Regions from separate parts of the Homo sapiens genome. Here region 2 is linked to region 1. Evidence: fine-mapped expression QTL. A gene starts in region 1. The other region holds a variant in brackets. All regions are shown on one strand. Distances are between the middles of the regions. Region 1 holds the start of CCDC136 (coiled-coil domain containing 136). Region 2 overlaps CCDC136 (coiled-coil domain containing 136).

Region 1 (9,046 bases):
TGGCAAGATCTGACTGGTTGTAGGATTTCAGTTCTGTGTGCATGGTTATTTGTTACGTTATTCTCTGTACCATACTTTTCTGCATGTTTCAAATACTCATATTTTTTTTCTTTTTAATGAAAGGATCTAGGCATTTAGAAATAAGGGTAAAGGGGGATAAATGGCTACATCAGTCCTCAAAGAGGATGATCTCCTGGGATGGGATTAGGAGGGAGGCTGAGCCCTGAGTCCAGGGATTACAGGGATTAATTCAGATCATCCCCCTAGGTTGATCACCTGGCTGACATGCCCACCACTCCTGGCCCCTCAGAGATGCATTTCTGGACCACAGCCCACCTCCCTCATATCTCTTAAGCTCTTTTCTCCCGCCTTTTAACTGCCTCCCTCCGCCCTCAACCCAGTACTGGTCTGGCCAGGGTTTGACCAAGTTTGGCTCCTGAAAATAGACTGGTTCAGGTCTCTCTTAAATGTTCTCCCAAATCAAGGGTGAAAGGTGACCTGCATGCCAGGAGCCAGGGAGAGATTAGTCCTAATACTCAGGATCAGAGCTCCCTGAGGAGAGCTTGAACCCTGGATGTCACCATCGACAATTTCCCTGCTGTGCCTCCCTACATTCACCAAGAGGTCAGCAGTCAAGGCCAACCGCTAACGTGGCCCTGCTGGCGGAGGCAGAACCAGGAGGAGCTGCGCTGGGCAGAAAGAACAGCCAGTAAGCTTCCAGAACTAGTCTTTGCCAGTTCCCAGAGCACTGCATCCCTCAAGCCCCCAGTGCAGCCCCTTTCTACCACCCCTGACAAATGCTCTGCTCCCCAAATCTGGACAGGCTTGGCGTCTGCAGTAAACCCTCTGCAGAAGGGGTCTGGGTGGGCTTGTTCAACTTTCCCCACAACTGTGTCACCTTGGCCACAGGATCTGGAGTAGAATCTTGTCATCTGGGAGCAAAGAAAACATTCTTGATCTCTGCTCATCATCTCTCTGCTGAGATAATGAGAGAGGCAGAGGAAGAAAAAAGGAGCAAGGAGTTGGGGGAGGGAGAGAGACTTATGGGCAACATCATCATTAATAGGCAACATTTAACACCACAAATATGAAATCATGTTAAATGATAAGACAGGGCATTAACTGGGTAGCTGGGAGATTGACCTTTAACTCATTTATCCTGTGTCAGAAACTCTGTCAGATGCTGGAAATACAAAGATAACTAAGATCCCCCTAACCTTCAGGAAACTGGGCAGAGCCCGGACAACCCGGAGGGCCTGGTGCTGTTACAGACAAATAGGGGCGAGCACCACAAAAGCGCCTAGTGGGGCAGGGATGGGGTGCCAGTCAGAGAAGGCCACCTGGAGGTGACCCCCAGCTGAAAAGGAGGGGGAAGTCCAGGCAAAGAAGGGCTTCCTTCCCGTGGAACAGGGATGGCTTGTGGACGTGGGAGCCTGTGGGATGTCAGAGACATTTGAGCCAGAGCAACTCCATCTTGAATAGAAGCTGGGTAAAATGAGGCTGAGACCTACTGGGCTGCATTCCCAGACGTTTAAGGAATTCTAAGTCACAGGATGAGATAGGAGGTTGGCACAAGACACAGGTCATAAAGACCTTGCTGATAAAACACCTTGCAGTAAAGAAGCCGGCCAAAACCCACTAAAACCAAGATGGCAGTGAGAGTGACCTCTAGTAATCCTCACACTGTTACACTCCCACCAGTGCCATGACAGTTTACAAATGCCATGGCAACATCAGAAAGTTACCCTACATTGTCTGAAAGGGGGTGTCAGGAATAAACCACCCCTTGTTTAGCATATCATCAAGAAATAACCAAAAAAAGCAGCCCTTGGGGCTGCTCTGTCTATGGAGTAGCCATTCTTTATTCCTTTACTTTCCTAATAAACTTGCTTTTAGTTTATCCTATGGACCTCCCTGAATTCTTTCTTGCGTGAGATTCAAGAACCCTCTGTTGCGGTCTGGATCCGGATCCCTTTCCTGCAGCGGGGGGAACGCAGACAATACTAGCCCTCGACCTGTGAGTGGATGTGCCAGAGAGGGGATCCGCGTGTGTCCCTGGCTTAGGAATCTTCCAGCCATTTCCTGGATGTGCTGGGGAGCCCCTGTTCCCAACTGTGCCCACTTCTATCCTTGCCGAGACCTGCCGAGATGTGAGAACTGCCTCTTCAAGAGCCGGCACCCAGTAGTCATAGCCTGAATAAACGAATGGTTGAAGACGTGAAATAAGCCCCCTGGGCTTCCAAATCTCCCTTCCACGAGAGTGAACATCAGTCGTGCCCACTCTGAGCGGGCTACTGTGGGGGCGTGGCTCGCAGCCCACCGGGTGTGGGACCGGAAGGGAAGACAGGGCGGAGGAGAGGGGGTCTTCCGGCCCTGAGGCTTGATGGGGCCACCGGAGGGCTCCTCCTAAGAGGGTCCTTGGCCCTGGCTCGGTGGGGGGTCGCGGAAAGCGGAGAGGTCAGGGCCCTGCCGTTCGCCCATCCGGGCCTCGACTTCCCTCCTCCGGCCCCCAGGCTGCCGAGGGGCCACCGGGCAGGGGTGGGCAGGGCCTGGGGCCGGAGTCAGCGCGGACTGCTAGGTGGGGGCGCCGGCCGGGCGGGGGAGGGAGGGAAGGAGGGGCGCGCGTGTCTGCGCTTTTGGAGGAAACAGTCCCACCTCGTCCTTTGCCGTCCCCATTGCTGAGCATGACCGGGCCCTGACACCTGGTGCAGAAGGGTCCCTGGGCACAGCAGACCCCGGGGGGACCCGCCGCCAGAACCAGGGGATCTCGCTCCTCCCTCTTGGGGCAGCCATAAGCCTAGGAGCTCCTGACGCTGTCCGGGCCCCGCGGCTCCCCGCGCTCTCTAGGGGAGAGCCTTGGGGCGTATCCGGGGTCGCGCTCACCCTCCCGCGCCGCCCCCTGCACGGGCTCGGAGCTCCCGAGTGCTGGGAGGGCTTCCGGGCGGCGGCGAGCGGCGGGGGGCGGTGTCAGGAGGCCCGGCCAGGCCCCGCCCCCTCGTCCGCCCTCCCTCCCTCCCTGCGCACCCGGCTCGGGTCCCCGGGCTCGCGGCTGCGGCTTCTGCTCAGGGAGGCGGAAGGCGGCGGCGGGAGCGGTCATGGAGGCGGGCGCCGGAGCCGGCGCGGGAGCCGCGGGCTGGAGCTGCCCGGGCCCAGGTCAGAGCCGCCCCTCCGTCACCTGTCTACCGCCCCTCCTTTCTCTCCTCCATCCCTCCTCCTTCCAGACCCCCAGGTGCTCCCGGCCTCCGCGGCTCCCCTTTCTCCGCCCAAAGTCTTCCTCCCTCCATCCTGGCCTCCACCGGGGCCCGGTCTCCATCCTTCCGGCCTGGGACTGAGGCTTCCGCGCACCGGCCGCATCCTGCCTGGTGGTCCCTCCCCAGCGCGTCTCTCCACTTCAGTCCGACGGTGCTTCCAGCCTTCGGGACTGCAGACCCTACACCTCCTGCAGCCCCGGAGACTCCTGAGCGCGGGGCGAGGGTGGGGTGGGCAAGGTCCAGCGAGAGAATGGGAGGAGAGGGGAGGGGAGCGGTCGCAGCCCTACCCCTTCCCGCACGCCCCCCACTCCTCCCTCCCTCCATCTGTAGGCCACCTCAGCCTTTCAGCCTCTTCTTCACTGGCTCCCGCCCTCTTTCAGTCTTGGCCCTCTCCTCCCTGTCCCCCCGGACTAAATACGCACACCCCCTCTTTCTTTCTGTGCAAGCAAGAGGGTCCTGGAACAGCGGGTTCTGAGGAGGCTGGGAGGCAGGGCTGAGAGGTGGCCGAGAGAGAGGAGTCGCAGAGCCGCCAGAGTGAGTCAGGCACCTCCACTGGGATTACAGATCCCAGAGCCTCGAGGAGCTGGAAGACATGTCCCCTTCTTTCCTCTGCACCCCAGCCCGCAGCCAGCCCCCCACCCCCCAGCCCCTCCTTTCTCCCTGCTCTCAGGACCCACAGTGACCACTCTAGGCTCCTATGAGGCTTCCGAGGGCTGTGAGAGGAAGAAGGGCCAACGCTGGGGGTCCCTGGAACGACGGGGGATGCAAGCTATGGAGGGTGAGTTTTCCCAAAAGGCTTCTTTCTTTCCCCTCCCCTCCTCCCTTAATTCCCTTCTTTCCTCCCTCTGACCCCCAGGCCTCTGAGCCAGGACACAGCCCTTCCCTCAGTTCATCTTAGCCCCTCTTCCTGCAGCTCAGAGCTCCAGCCCTTCCCAGGGCTCAGGCTTTGACAGAAGTTCAGGATGCATCCCTTCGGGACCCCAATCACCCCCCAGCTAACCAGGTTATGTGTCCCGAGGGAGCTGCCAGACAGAGAAAGAGGCCTTGTTGGACAGAGCTTTGAAGCAGCCTTTCAGCAGGGGGTTTGTCCTCACTGCCTGCCGACCCAGATCCCAAGCTGTCTCTTATTTTAAAAAGCAAGGAACTGGGCATGTGAATTGTCTTTCTGGGGCCACCAACATTAACTTCGAATGGAAGCCTGTGGCTTTGGTTCTTTAGGATACCTTATTGCCTGAAAGAGAGAGCCTAGGAGGGGGCGCGTGAGGCCATCCTCCCAACACACGTGTATCCCCACCACACCCATGTGACTTGGCAGTTGCTGCCAACACCAGGCCCCTGGAAGGACGCTGGTCCATTTGCCAGTACTTCCTGTGAAGTGTTGCACGTTGCACATTCAGTATGGGCAAACCTGCTCCCCCTAAGGGGGACAGATGGCACGAAGGGTCCCAGTTGAACCTAAGGCTGCTGATATTAGATAAAGTAAGACCAGAGATTCAGAATTTTAAAACAAAGCAAACAATCACCATCCAGACAACATTTTGCTATTTATAGGGACTGCGTTGCAGTAAAGGAGCGGGTGCTCACAACCAGAGGCTGGGGGCCAGCACCAAACCCCAGTTTTTTTAATGCATTAAAATGGTAGGCTTTCTTTTACACACAAGTACAGCCTAAAACTTCCCCTGAAATCTACTTTGTGGTCAGCAGAGTAGGAGGGGCCTCATATGGCTCAGCTAGGGGAGAGGAGACCTTGTGACATGCAGCAGGGAAAAACAAGGTGGACCTTGTAGAAAATTTCAAACAGGTATTTAATAATATACATTTGAAAGGGCGCCCGAGTTTGTCCAATGAAACCTCTACAATCAGATATTTTCTTTCTCTACCTGCTGACGGGCAATGTTTTCTTATTATGGAAAGGCTGATTTTTCACAAGCCACCTGGATAGTTTTTGTTTGGTTGTTTTTGTTTGTTTGTTTGTTTGAGACGGAGACTCACTCTGTTGCCCAGGCTGGAGTGCCAGTGGCTCGATCTCGCCTCACTGCAACCTCCAGTTCCCAGGTTCAAGCGATTCTCCTGCCTTAGCCTCCCAAGTAGCTGGGATTACAGGCGTGTACTACCACGCCCAGCTAATTTTTTTGTATTTTTAGTAGAGAAGGGGTTTCACCATGTTGACCGGGCTGGTTTGGAACTCCTGGCCTCAAGTAATCCACCCACCTCAGCCTCCCAAAGTGCTAGGATTACAGGCATGAGCCAGCATGCCTGGTCAGTTTTGTTTTGTTTTTTAACTTTCAAGAAATCTCCAAACTGTAACTGTTACCCCATTTGACCGAAAGATCCGCTCACTGTCTCCTTTCTTGACTACTTGTCCTGCTACTCAGAGGCCAGCCTAGAAGAAGCAGGTAATCCTGTGCAAGTGTCTCATGGCTGAGCGGGCACCAGCCTGCCCACAGGCAGTGATAGGAGGCTACCAAGTGCAACATTGGTCCAGGAAGGGCCTGGGAGGTGGAGGGGCTGCTTCTCAACTTGACTCTCACACCTGAGGACTCATCTTGAGTACAGGTCTTGCCCCGGGGCTCCTTGGGGGACACCAGGTGGCACTAGTATGTCATCTCTGCCCTGGCATAGTGAGTTTGAGGGCCCTGGAAGGACGGCAGAAAGGAAGTTGATGCTGACTCCTTGGTGGGATGGCTGTGTCTCCTAGGGGAGGTGTTACTCCCAGCTCTCTATGAGGAGGAAGAGGAAGAGGAAGAGGAGGAAGAAGAGGTGGAAGAAGAAGAAGAACAAGTGCAGAAAGGTGGCAGTGTTGGCTCTCTGTCAGTCAACAAGCACCGGGGACTGAGCCTCACGGAGACAGAGCTGGAGGAGCTGCGGGCTCAGGTGCTGCAGCTGGTGGCAGAACTGGAGGAGACCCGGGAACTGGCAGGGCAGCATGAGGATGACTCCTTGGAGCTACAGGGTGAGTGCCTGGGCCAGGGCCCAGTGCCCGGGCCCAGAGGCTCTGCACTCCCCTGGATCCGAGCTTGACACTGGTGCCCCTCTCCCTGCAGGGCTCCTGGAGGATGAACGGCTAGCCAGCGCCCAGCAGGCAGAGGTGTTCACCAAGCAGATCCAGCAGCTCCAAGGTAATTCCCAGGACTTGGACTGGAGGGAGGTGGCCATCCAAGTGGTCACCTAAGTACTTTTTTCCTGAGGGTTTGACTGAAGCACAGCAGATAAAAATAACCAAATTCAGTAATTTCACCTCATTTTCCTCTACTAGTCTCACCCTTTTCCTCTCCTTGTCTCTCCATCCTCCTCTGTCCCCAGTTTTCTTTCTTTGCACATCTACCTGGCTCTTCTGTCCTCCCCTTCCATTTCTTGGCCTCCCTGTCACCTCCTGTCCCTGGTGGGCTCTTTCCTCTTGCCCCTTCAGCCTCCTCCTTCATACTGCATCCCTGTCCCTTTGTTCTCCTGGTCAGTGCCAGGGGTGGGTGATCCAAGTTGAATTCCAAGCCGGATTCCTTTTTCTGGTTCCTCCAAGGATGGCATGGGAAAGCATGAAGCCAATGAGAAGTGACTGGTGGGGCCTCTCTGCACCTATTAAGAGAGACAGATGACAGCACTTCTGTTGCTGCCTGGGACCTGAGCTTGTGGGCCCCAAATCCCTTTTTGCCAACACCCACGTCCCTTTGTCTCTGGGAAGCAGCAAGGCAGATGCCCCACATTCCACCACACCACCAAATAAAGAGGCAGCTTTTGTTACTTCTGTGGGCCTCCGGAAGGTTTAGGGGAGCTGCCCTAGAAAACGGCAGGGACTCTGGGGAGAACTGAGATCAAGCCAAAAGAAAAGTATAAATGGAGAAAAAAAAGGAAGGCCAGGAAGCAGGCCTGGACAGGAGCAAGCAGAGGTGTAAGTGGGGAGGAGAGGAGACGGGGACAGAAAATGTAAGCAAAGGTAGATACAGGAAGGGTGGTCAGTGAAGGGGCTTGCAGAGGAGGAAAGTGGCAGGACACGTGTCACATAGGGAAGAGTGTGGGCATTGATCTGGGATGACCTAGATTCCTGGGCCCAGCTATACCACTTAGAAATTGTGTGATCTTGGGCAAGTCACTTATCTTTCTGAGATGTCATTTCTTATCTGTAAAATGGGACTAATTTATTTATCACCTATTTATGAGGTGCCTTTATACTTGGAGGACCAGCTGTGAATGAGACAGACCACATCTCTGCCCTAATGAAGAGTACATTCTAACGGAGAGAGGCAGAAAATAAACAACACAAGTTCAGATGGCAATAAATGCTATGAACACGATATAATAATATGATACAGAGAGGAGGTGGGATGGGAGTTTATTTTATTTTATTTTGAGACAGAGTCTTACTCTGTTGCCCAGGCTGGAGTGCAATGGCACAATCTCAGCTCACTTCAACCTCTGCCTCCCAGGTTCAAGCGATTCTAGTGCCTCAGCCTCCCGAGTAGCTGAGATTACAGGCATGCGCCACCACACCTGGCTAATTATTGTATTTTTAGTAGAGATGGAGTTTCACCATGTTGGCCAGGCTGGTCTTGAAGGGAGTTTATTTTAGATATGGCAGTTAGGAAAGTCATCTTTGAGAAGATGACATTTGAGCTAAGACCTGAATAATGAAAAGGATCCAGCCATCCAAGATCTGAGGGAGGAGCATACCAGGCAGAAGCAACAGCAACTGCAAAGGCCCAGAGGTGAGAATGAGCTTCATTTGTTTGAGCGACAGAACAGAGGCCACTGTGTTTGCAGCAAAGTGCACGTGGAGGACCCTGGCAAGAGAACGTTCTGAGGCAGGCAGAGGCCAGATTACAGTGGATCTTGTAGGCCAGCCAAGAGGTTTGGCTTTCATGTTAAGTGTGGTAGAAAGCCAGGAGAGGGTCTTAGCCAGGAATGGGATGATACGATCTGCTTTACATTTTTAAAAGAGAACTTGGCCACTAAGTGGAAACACTTAAGATGGAGGGAAGTGACTCAGAACAGTGAGTCCTGTCAGCAAGTTACTGCAATAGTCCAGTCAAGAGATGATGGTCGCTTGAGTTAGGGCTGTAGAAATGGAGATGATTCAGAATATATATATATATATATTCTTTTTTTTTTTTTTTTTGAGACGGAGTCTCGCTCTGTCGCCCAGGCTGGAGTGCAGTGGCGGGATCTCGGCTCACTGCAAGCTCCGCCTCCCGGGTTCACGCCATTCTCCTGCCTCAGCCTCCCAAGTAGCTGGGACTACAGGCGCCCGCCACTACGCCCGGCTAATTTTTTGTATTTTTAGTAGAGACGGGGTTTCACCGTTTTAGCCGGGATGGTCTCGATCTCCTGACCTCGTGATCCGCCCGCCTCGGCCTCCCAAAGTGCTGGGATTACAGGCGTGAGCCACCGCGCCCGGCCCAGAATATATTTTGAAGGTGAAGCCCTCGGGATTTGCTAATGAATTCGATCAGGGGATAACAGAGACATGAAAGATGACTTTGCCTTGAGAAAATTGATGGAAGGTGGTGATGTTTATTGAATTGGGAAAGACTTGGCAAGGGGTAAGTTTTGGGGCTAGGGGAGCCATTTAAAACATGTTTTCCTCTGTTGAGTTTGAAGTAACTGTGGACATCCAAGTGAATATATTGAGGCAGTTGGATATATAAAGGCAGAACCAGGGAGAAAACAGGGCCGGAGATGTAAATTTGGAGTCATTAGCATATAATTGGCATTAGAATCCATGGGAAATAATGGTGCAGTCACATGGAGAGACACCAGAAGAGGAGAAAGGGTCCAGTCCCAGAGACACTCCAGTATTTAGA
Region 2 (8,921 bases), 28 kb after region 1:
GAGTATTTCCTGTGTAAGTCCTCAGCTTACATTACAGGTTCTTTCTGTTCTAAACAGAGGTAAAGAAAAAAAGCCTCTTGTGGTGGGATTATCCAGTCAACTCTGAGGATATCTGGAATTTCCAGCAATTTGGTCTTCAGCACTGGCTAAGGATCCAGTGTGCAGTGCTCTGCTTACCTTGTGCCAGGGGACCATTACCTAAGATGTGGAAAGTCGGAACCACTGCAGCCCCTCCCACTATCATGTTTCCTTGAGCTCATCATATTCCACCACGTGCTGGTTCAGAGCCTCACAGATGTCTTTACCTTCGGTGCCACATTTCTAAAGCTAGACCTGATTTTTCTACTTCAAATATATTCTATGTTTCTATATATGGAGAGATCCCTTTGCCCCGTGGGTCCTGCGTCTTTTGCAGGCAGCTCTAGGGCATGTGTATTACCACCTTGCAAAATCGGTTTCTCTCTGGAAGATTGTTGCAGTGAAAGAACTAGCCCTTCTCCATTGTCAGTTTGTTTCGGTGCATGTTGTCTTACAATGATATCATTAGATTCCTAGGGGATCTAAGGGACCAGAGCCCAAAATACTAAGAAACTTAATGGAAAGCAGGCTAGAACAAAGGGACAGGTGACCTGGTAGAAGACTGGCTCTTCCTAGAGTGACCTAGGAAAAGTCACAAGAAAGGTCTAGATGCAGATACCTCCTGCTTGACAGGATATGAGAGGTATGTGACGAGACAGAAAGAAAACTGGACTCACCGCCTGACTTGGACCTAGCTGCTGCTTAACCCATTCAATTTTGCAATTCCTGCAGACTGCCGGTGGAAAGAACCAAGGCCCAGGCAGCAGAAAAGACATGCAACTGCTCTAGCTTACCTGTTTTTTAACCTCTTGATTCCTTTCTCTTTTCCCTTTGTTTTCTCATCTTCATTATCTGTTGGATCCATGCGTTTATGTCTCACATCTCCTGGTCTCTCCTCGTGCTTCTTTCTCATTTTGGTGTGTTGCAGTCATCCCCTACCCCCAATCCCCCCATCTTCTCCTTGCCTCTTGTAGGCCTGGTGGTCATCTCGGCTTTGCTCTGGTGCTGGTGGGCTGAGACGTCGTCCTAATGCAGGTACTGGTATTGCTTCCTCTCCTTCTGAGGGATAGAGGGAGGGTGCAGGTTGCCCTGGCCTCTCCTCTTTCCCTTTTCTCCCAGCTGCTTGCTTCTTGCTTGTGCCATTTTATAATAGGTGATGCTCAGGTCTGAGTTTTAGTTCTGACTTTTCCTTGGGCTACTGCAAAGCCTCTGACATCTCTGAGCATGTCTTCGTAATGCATAGGAGGTTGGAATGCTTGCCAGAGACATGGTTTGTTTCAATCCTTGGCTGGGAAAAACTTGGATAAGCCCAGCTTGGTTGCTGCTGTCAAAGCTGCCTCACTACTTCTTTATCCCCGCTCATCCTCTGTGTGATGGCTAGCCTGACCACTTCTGATGAGCTGATATTTGCAAGGCTGGCCTGGACTCTCTTTGTCTTGGTTTAACTCCGGAGCCAAGTTCTCACTACTGTTGCTACCCAAGATGGCAAAATAAGGAATCCCTCTTCTGTTGGGAGAGAGAGGAGCTCTGAAGAGCTCTGATCCTCATGATCCTCCCAGGGGCATTGGTAGGAGGGCAACCTAAGCTGGTCCATCAAGCTTGGTGAAATGGAACCGAACCCCTACTGTATTCTGCTCTTTCTACTGAACAGTTCTCTGCTTCTGGACTTCCAGTCTCCGGAAAAGTCAGAACAGAATGCCGGGAAATTTTATTAGTTATCTATTTATCTATTTTGTGGGCCAGATTCCATGGTAATTGGCTTCCCCAGCTAGGTTTTCTGGAGAGAATGAGGTATTAGTGAAAAGTTTCTACTAGCCAGAGATGTGTGTTCTCAGGAAATCAAGACTGATATATTCTGGCCACTTTCCTGTCAGCTCCCACACATGTAATGTACACTGTCAACAGGATACCAAATTCAGGAGGCAGAATGTGGTCTTACGGCCTAAGGTAGAAGCCTGGGGTTCCACCTGCCTTCTGGAACCCATAAGGTATTCTCTCTAGTCCTGCATTGGCTCCTCTCTCATGCTTTCCCTGCCTCCCCCTCCACTCCCCTCTCTTCTCACATTCCTGTGAACGGAATGTAGCTTAATGCACAGGGTGGCAACTGGAGGATTTGTTGGTGGCACTTCTCTCCATTTCCTTTTCTGTCCTTCCTCCTGCTCCCTCCCCAGCTTTCCTGTTACTCATCTTCAAGCCTCCACTTTTCTTCTTGACTTTAGGTATTCCCTTTACTCCCTGGTCCACAACTGCTTTAGTGACGGGGCCCCTCTCTATGACTGTTTCTCCCCTGTCACCCCCCAGAAGTCTTAAGGCACTACGGGTGAAACCCAAAGAGTTCAGCCACAGCCTTCCACTACCTCAGACCCAGCCCGGCCCAATCAGAGGGAGAGGAAGAACTGCTGGTGAAGGGTTCTCCTGGTGGGGCCTGTTATCCCCAGAGCTCCAGGAGGCCCCAACATGCACCTGTGCAGCCAGGACCTGAGGGAGCACAGTGTGGTAGAAAGCGTGGCTGCCAGGCGGTCAGAAGAACTTGGTTGAGTCTGTCTCTACTGACAGGCGTTGTCCCAGGGAGCAAAATGCACACTCTGAGCTCTAGTTTCTTCAAATGTAAGCAAAGGATGATCGAACCTCTGCCCTCCTCACAGGTTTTTGTCAGGACCAGATGGGTTGAAGTAGATGAAAGTATTCTATAAATTATAAAATACCCCATCATTAATAAAAAGAGCACGCACTTACAAAATGCAGTCTTATGTGTCAGGCACTGTTCTAATCACTTACGTATATTAACTGATTTAATCCTTGCAACAACCCCATGAAGAAGCTACTCCTATTTTTTTTTATATATGATTAAACTAAGGCATAGAGAAGTTAAGTAAAACAGCCAGGAAGCTGCGAGTCAGATTATAAGGACTCAATATTAGCAACAAATAAGATTCCAGTCTTGCTTCCCTTTATTGTCTCTCCTCATTTTGAGCAGTTTCTCTTCATTGGTCCCAAGTAGGAAGACACCATACTTGTGTTTAGGCAACCTCAGATCACATTAGCTCTTTAGGTAACTAATATATTATTTATTTATTTCATGTATTTTTTATAAGCCCCTCTGCAGATTGTGTATGCTAAGCGTCCTCTCCCCATTCTGTACCTGCATTTGATTTTGAGGCTTCAAAGGCAGAATTTTCCATTCTTCCCTATTATAGTTCATTGTTCTTACCTTATAAGGTTTTGTGTGTATGTGTTTTTAATCTTGACCCTGTGGTTTTAAAATATTCACTTCCTCTGCCACCTTCACATCATCTACAGGGGTGGCAAGCCCTCCTTCCCTGTCTTCATCTACAGAGGACAGAGTGAGGACAGAGCCTCTAGAGTGTCGTCTCTTGGGGTTCTTTTATTCAGCTCATTGGTCACTTACCTGCCATTCAACAAACTGTACTGTCATCCTACCCTTATTTCTGCATATTATCTGCAAAGATCATAGAAAATTCTGTCAAACAACTCAACGTCCAAAAACATGATTCCGGTGATTTGTCACTTAGGTCACCTAGTTTAAAAGGAGAGTTTGACACGACTTCCCCTTTGGGACACCCACACCAGCCCTTTCCCCATCCCATGTAGAAGCTTGCCTTTGCCCAGTGTGAGGTGCACGGGTCACATTTAAGGATTTCAGCTCCTCCCTCCTTTAAGAACACCAGACTAACATTCTTAGCAATGCACATTAGGATAGAGGCATCTGAGCATATAAATATTTTTTTCTAGCTAGCTCCCTTCTTAGTTTTTGTTTTTGGTTTTAGAGACAGGGTCTCGCTCTGTCACCGAGGCTAGAGTGCAGCGGCATGATCATGGCTCACTGTAACTTTGAACTCC[C/T]GGTCTCAAGCGATCCTCCTCCCTCAGCCTCCGGATCTCTTGGTTTTCTTACATGAGTTACTCTGTATATCCACCTGTAACATTGCTTGGCTTTCCATTTCATACCTTCTGTTGTTCTTAGTAGCTATTTCTATAAGCTCAGGAGATTTTCTTTGCTCTTTAGCAGGCTTAAAGTCCTCTTTTTAGATCAATTATCATCTGAGAAAATGTGTTCTTAGCATTAATGGGCTATATTCCATTTTTACTTGAAACCATCCTTCTGTTACCTATGCCATAGCTTATGACTCAAAATCCAAATTCTACCTTTCAGTTAGTAGAGTAAAAAAGTAATAAAAATAAAACCTATTTCCCCAAGTATGTATTTTCTTGTCTAAGATTTTCATATTACCTAATGGATGCTTTTTGGATATCTTCGATGGTGCCACTTGTCCCATGAATCAGCAGGGTTCCCTAGTGGCCGGCAGTGTCTGGAAGCCTCAGCATACTCTAGCACATGCACCAGGAAGTCAGTCAACATACCTGGTGATTAGGAGTGTTCTAATGACCTAGGCCCAGTGACAGGTTTCCTTAAATTTCCTTGAACCAATGTCATTCTCTGTCAAAGTTTGTCTGCCTAAGAACCTCCTACTTACCTGCACTCCGTGGTGCACTTTCTTCATTTCCCCTCAGCCTTATTCCCCCTTCCCCATCCTCTTGACTCTGAGTTCACTTCACTGCAGTGAAACTAATGAGGTGCTGCTGCTTTTCTCAAAGCCCCAGATTTCCCCTCCTCTTTCTTGCCATGGCATCCAGTCCTTTCTCATTGCAACCACTTGGAAGTCTGGCCCCTGAGCCTGCTTCTTCACATGGGAGCTAGTATTCTCAGCCCATGGGGAGAAACGGAGGCCTGAATACAGGCGGTCACCTAAGGTGGTGCGTACAGTGTTGGGCCACATGTCTAGTGGTGCCAGGACTGAGAGATCACTTACCTCCACCGGTTACCCAGGAGGTAACAGAGACTGATCCACAATGTTCCTGAGGTGTCTTGGGCACCCATAGGCAGGTGACTTCTGGCTTAGGGCAGGGTTCAGGAGGCTGGGCACTCACAGTTTCTCTTTGGTCCCCACAGAACATGTTTGGGTTGTGGAAGCCTATGGTATTCTTGGCTATTGCAGCTGTGGCTCTGTATGTGTTACCCAACATGCGACAGCAGGAGTCAGAGTTCTGCCTCATGGAGTGATGGCAGACCTTGGCCAGCGCGAGGGCAGATCCCCAGTGGCCACCACCCTCAGCTTTGGGCAGGACACACTGTGCCAGAACCCTCCCCATATGTTCCATGTGTCCCCATCTCCTCAGCCTCAGTCACCCAGGCTGAAAAGGCTTGTGGGGAGCGGCTGACTTCCATCTCCTGCCTTGTGTAAGAACCTGAGTTCCTTGTAATTAAATATCAACTGAATTACATGAGACTGTGGATTTTTATTTGCTAAATGCCTCACAACACAACCAGAACAGAGCAGTCCCCCTTTAACCAAGTACCTCACATAAGGGTCTGACTCCTAAATGCGGCTTCTCACCTTGCAGATGGCCTCAGAAATGAGGCTAGCCCCTTGTGCTGTCGACTGACTCACAGAGGGGTTAGTCTGTGCTTATTAACCCCATCCTGAGGTGCTCTCCTGAGCATGGAGAAATGGAGTGACTGAGGGCTGGGGAGACCTCCCCTAAGGTTCTGTGCCCACACCTATCTACATGAGAAGGCCGCCCTAAGAAGATCCACGTGTGTGCCTTCGTGACTTAGCCTTTGTGACTTCTCAAGGGATTCGCCCTCAGAGATGACTTTAATCAGCCAGGGTCCTGGCAGTAAACAGGTGGCACACTCAAAGCTTTACATGAAGAGAGTTTAATGAAGAGACTATGTACCAAAGGCAGAGTTAGGAGAAGCAACAAAAAATAGTGAAGTACCAGGCACTAGCAACAGTGTAAAGCTGTTAGCATCCCAGGCTGAAGCAGGAAGGAAAGGAAGCAAGAGCTGGAGCTCTGAAAATGGGCCCCAGGCAGGAGTGGCAGCCACATGGGGTGCAGCCCCCGCCAGAGCCGTGAGGAAGTGGGATATATATTCCCCTACCTTCTCCTCCCACCTGCCAGTATTCTACTGGTACCTTATCAGCTGAACTCAATGGGAAGACAAAGCGCAGAGGTGCCCAGGTGATGTAATCTTTCAAGCTCAGCCTCCTGGAGCTTAGAGCAGGACAGAGGCCTGAAGATGGATCTAATTGGGACAAGTAGAATGATGAGGATAGTTTATGTGTGTTCCTGTTTACCTTCATTCCTGTGGAACCTTTGTGATTGGAGTTTATCATCATGAATGTTTCCTTACGAAAGAAGACCCCAAGCGTATTCTTTTTATTTCTTTCTTTTTTTCTTTTTCTTTTTTTTTTTTTGAGACAGGGTCTCACTCTGTCACCCAGGCTGGAGTGCAGTGGCACCATCTTGGCTCACTGCAACCTCCACCTCCTGAGCTCAAGTGCCTCCCACTTCAGCCTCCCAAGTAGCTGGGACCACAGGCATACACCACCATGCCCAGCTAATTTTTATATTTTCTGTAGAGACAGAGTTTCACCATTTTGCCCAGGCTGGTCTCAAATTCCTGGGCTCAAGCAATCCTCCTGCCTCAGCCTGCCCAAAGTGCTGGGATTACAGGCATGAGGCATATTGCCCAGCCCCAAGCATATTCTTAAACCATAGTGGAAACAATGACCCCATGACTCCTGGCTTTCTTTGGACCCCTCTTTCTTCCTCCCTCCCACCCAAAAGGACTTTGTTCCATTCAATCAAACATCCAAAGAAACACATGTACAGAGTGTATACTGTGGTAGCACTGCCAAGCTAAATGAATTCTTTCCTTCTCTAGCTCTTACCTACAGGGAGTAGCAAGGACATTTAGAATTAGGATATTTTCAAGTTGTATTCAGCCCAGAGAAGTGACACGGCTGAATCAAAAGTCCATTTTGGCAGACATGGGGCTAGTGCTGAAATTGTGACTAGCCTCCTAGAAACGTGACTGCAACTAGGCAAACTGAGGACAGTGCCATATGCCTCTTTTGCCTTTGTCTAAATCAGCGGTCCCCAACCTTTTTGGCACCGGGGACCGGTTTCATGGAAGACAATTTTTCCACAGATGGAGAGGGGATGGGGATGGTTTCGGGATGAAACTGTCCCACCTCAGAGCATCAGGCATTAGCTAGATTCTCGTAAGGAGTGTGCAACCTAGATCCCTCACATGCGCAGTTCACAATAGGGTTCCTGCTCCTTATGAGAATCTAATGCTGCCACTGATCTGACAAGAGGCAGAGCTCAGGTGGTAATGCTTGCCTAGCCACCACTCACCTAATGCTGTGTGGCCAAGTTCCTGACAGTATCGGTCCATGGCCTGGGGATTGTGCACCCCAGCTCTAAGTGACTCCTCTTTGAAGACAGTTCTGACCTAGGCTGGTCTAGCTTCTTGCTAGTCCATGTGACCCACAGATCTGCAGCATCAGCATTGCCCGGGAGCTTATTTGAAAGGCAGATCTCAGGCCCCAACCCAGACCTACTGATGCAGAATCTGCATTTCCAACAAGATGCCCAGTTGATTCGTATGCACGGTAACATTTGAGAAGCACCACCCTAGTCAATTATATTAGATTGTATGTTCTCAGTTGTAACCTAAAGAAATTATTTCACAACTGACCTGGTGCCACTGGCTGCTTGCTTTTCAGTATAGTGAGACTGCTATTTACCCACTTTACTGCCGCCACCAGTTGACTGAAGAACATGGGTATGGGTGGTGGAAAGGACTTATAGCCAAATGCTATGGTAAGCATGTTTGTGTCTGCCCCCTATCCTGCAAATTCATATGTTGAAACCCTAACCCCTAAAGTGATAATATTAGGAGGGGGGCTTTGGGAGGTGATTAGGTCATGAGACCAAAGGCCTCAGGAGTGGGATCAGAGCCCTTATTAAAGAGACTTCAGAGAGATCCCTCACCCTTTCTGCCACGTAAGTTTATAGTAAGACTACAGCCAGGCCGGGCGCAGTGGCTCATGCCTGTAATGCCAGCACTTTGGGAGGCCGAGGCGGGCGGATCACCTGAGGTCAGGAGTTCGAGACCAGCCTGACCAACATGGAGAAACCCCATCTCTACTAAAAATACAAAAAATTAGCCGGGCGTGGTGGCACATGCCTGTAATCCCAGCTACTCGGGAGACTGAGGCAGGAGAATCGCTTGAACCTGGGAGGCAGAGGTTGTGGTGAGCCGAGATCATGCCATTGCACTCTAGCCTGGGCAACAAGAGTGAAACTCCATCTCAAAAAGAAAACAAAACAAAACAAAACAAAACAAACTACAGCCATCTGTGAGGGAGTAGGCCCCTCGCCAGACATGGAATCTGCAGGCATCTTGATCTCAGACTTCCTAGCCTCCAGAATTGTAAGACATAAATTCTTGTTGTTTATAAGCCACCCGGTCTATAGTGTTTTGTTACAGCAGCCCAAATGGACTAAGACAGCAAAGATCACTGATTTAACCTGGAATTACAAGCCAGGATAGAGGTCAGGTTCTAGTAGGGTGGTCCCCAGCTAGGGGACCTGAACCTAGACCCTGCCTAATGACAGGAATGTGGGCCTGCTTTTCCCACTTTTTTGCTTAGACTACAAAACCCCTCCCTTTAGGACATGTCCTTCTCTGTTCATTTCATTGATTAATTGATTGATTGATTGAGACAGGGTCTGGCTTTGTTGCCCAGGCTGGAGTGCACTCGTGCAATTTCGGCTCACTGCAACCTCCACCTTCCAGGCTCAAGCCATCCTCCCACCTCAGTTTCCAGAGTAGCTGGGACTACAGGTGCTCACCACCGCGCACAGCTAATTTTTGTATTTTTTGCAGAAATGGGGTTTTGCCATGTTGCCCAGGCTGCTCCAAACTCCTGAGCTCAAGTGAATCGCCCGCCTCGGCCTCCCAAAGTGCT

Evidence for each region. PIP is the estimated chance that this variant, and not a neighbour inherited with it, causes the effect.
Region 2: its variant is fine-mapped to the expression of CCDC136 in whole blood (INTERVAL, PIP 0.97).

The regions. Positions count from the first base shown.
Region 1 is chr7:128,788,399-128,797,444 of GRCh38, forward strand. CCDC136 (coiled-coil domain containing 136) reads left to right here and starts at 3,570. Exons shown (of 18, transcript NM_022742.5): 1 at 3,570-4,029; 2 at 5,950-6,204; 3 at 6,296-6,370. The coding sequence starts at 4,014. RefSeq lists silencers at 2,677-3,146, 2,685-2,953.
Region 2 is chr7:128,816,752-128,825,672 of GRCh38, forward strand. CCDC136 (coiled-coil domain containing 136) reads left to right here. Exons shown (of 18, transcript NM_022742.5): 17 at 1,007-1,113; 18 at 5,048-5,379. The coding sequence ends at 1,108. Among named protein-coding and RNA genes, the nearest start is that of FLNC, 9.2 kb to the right of the region's middle. The variant C/T (reference allele first, on the strand shown) is at 3,940.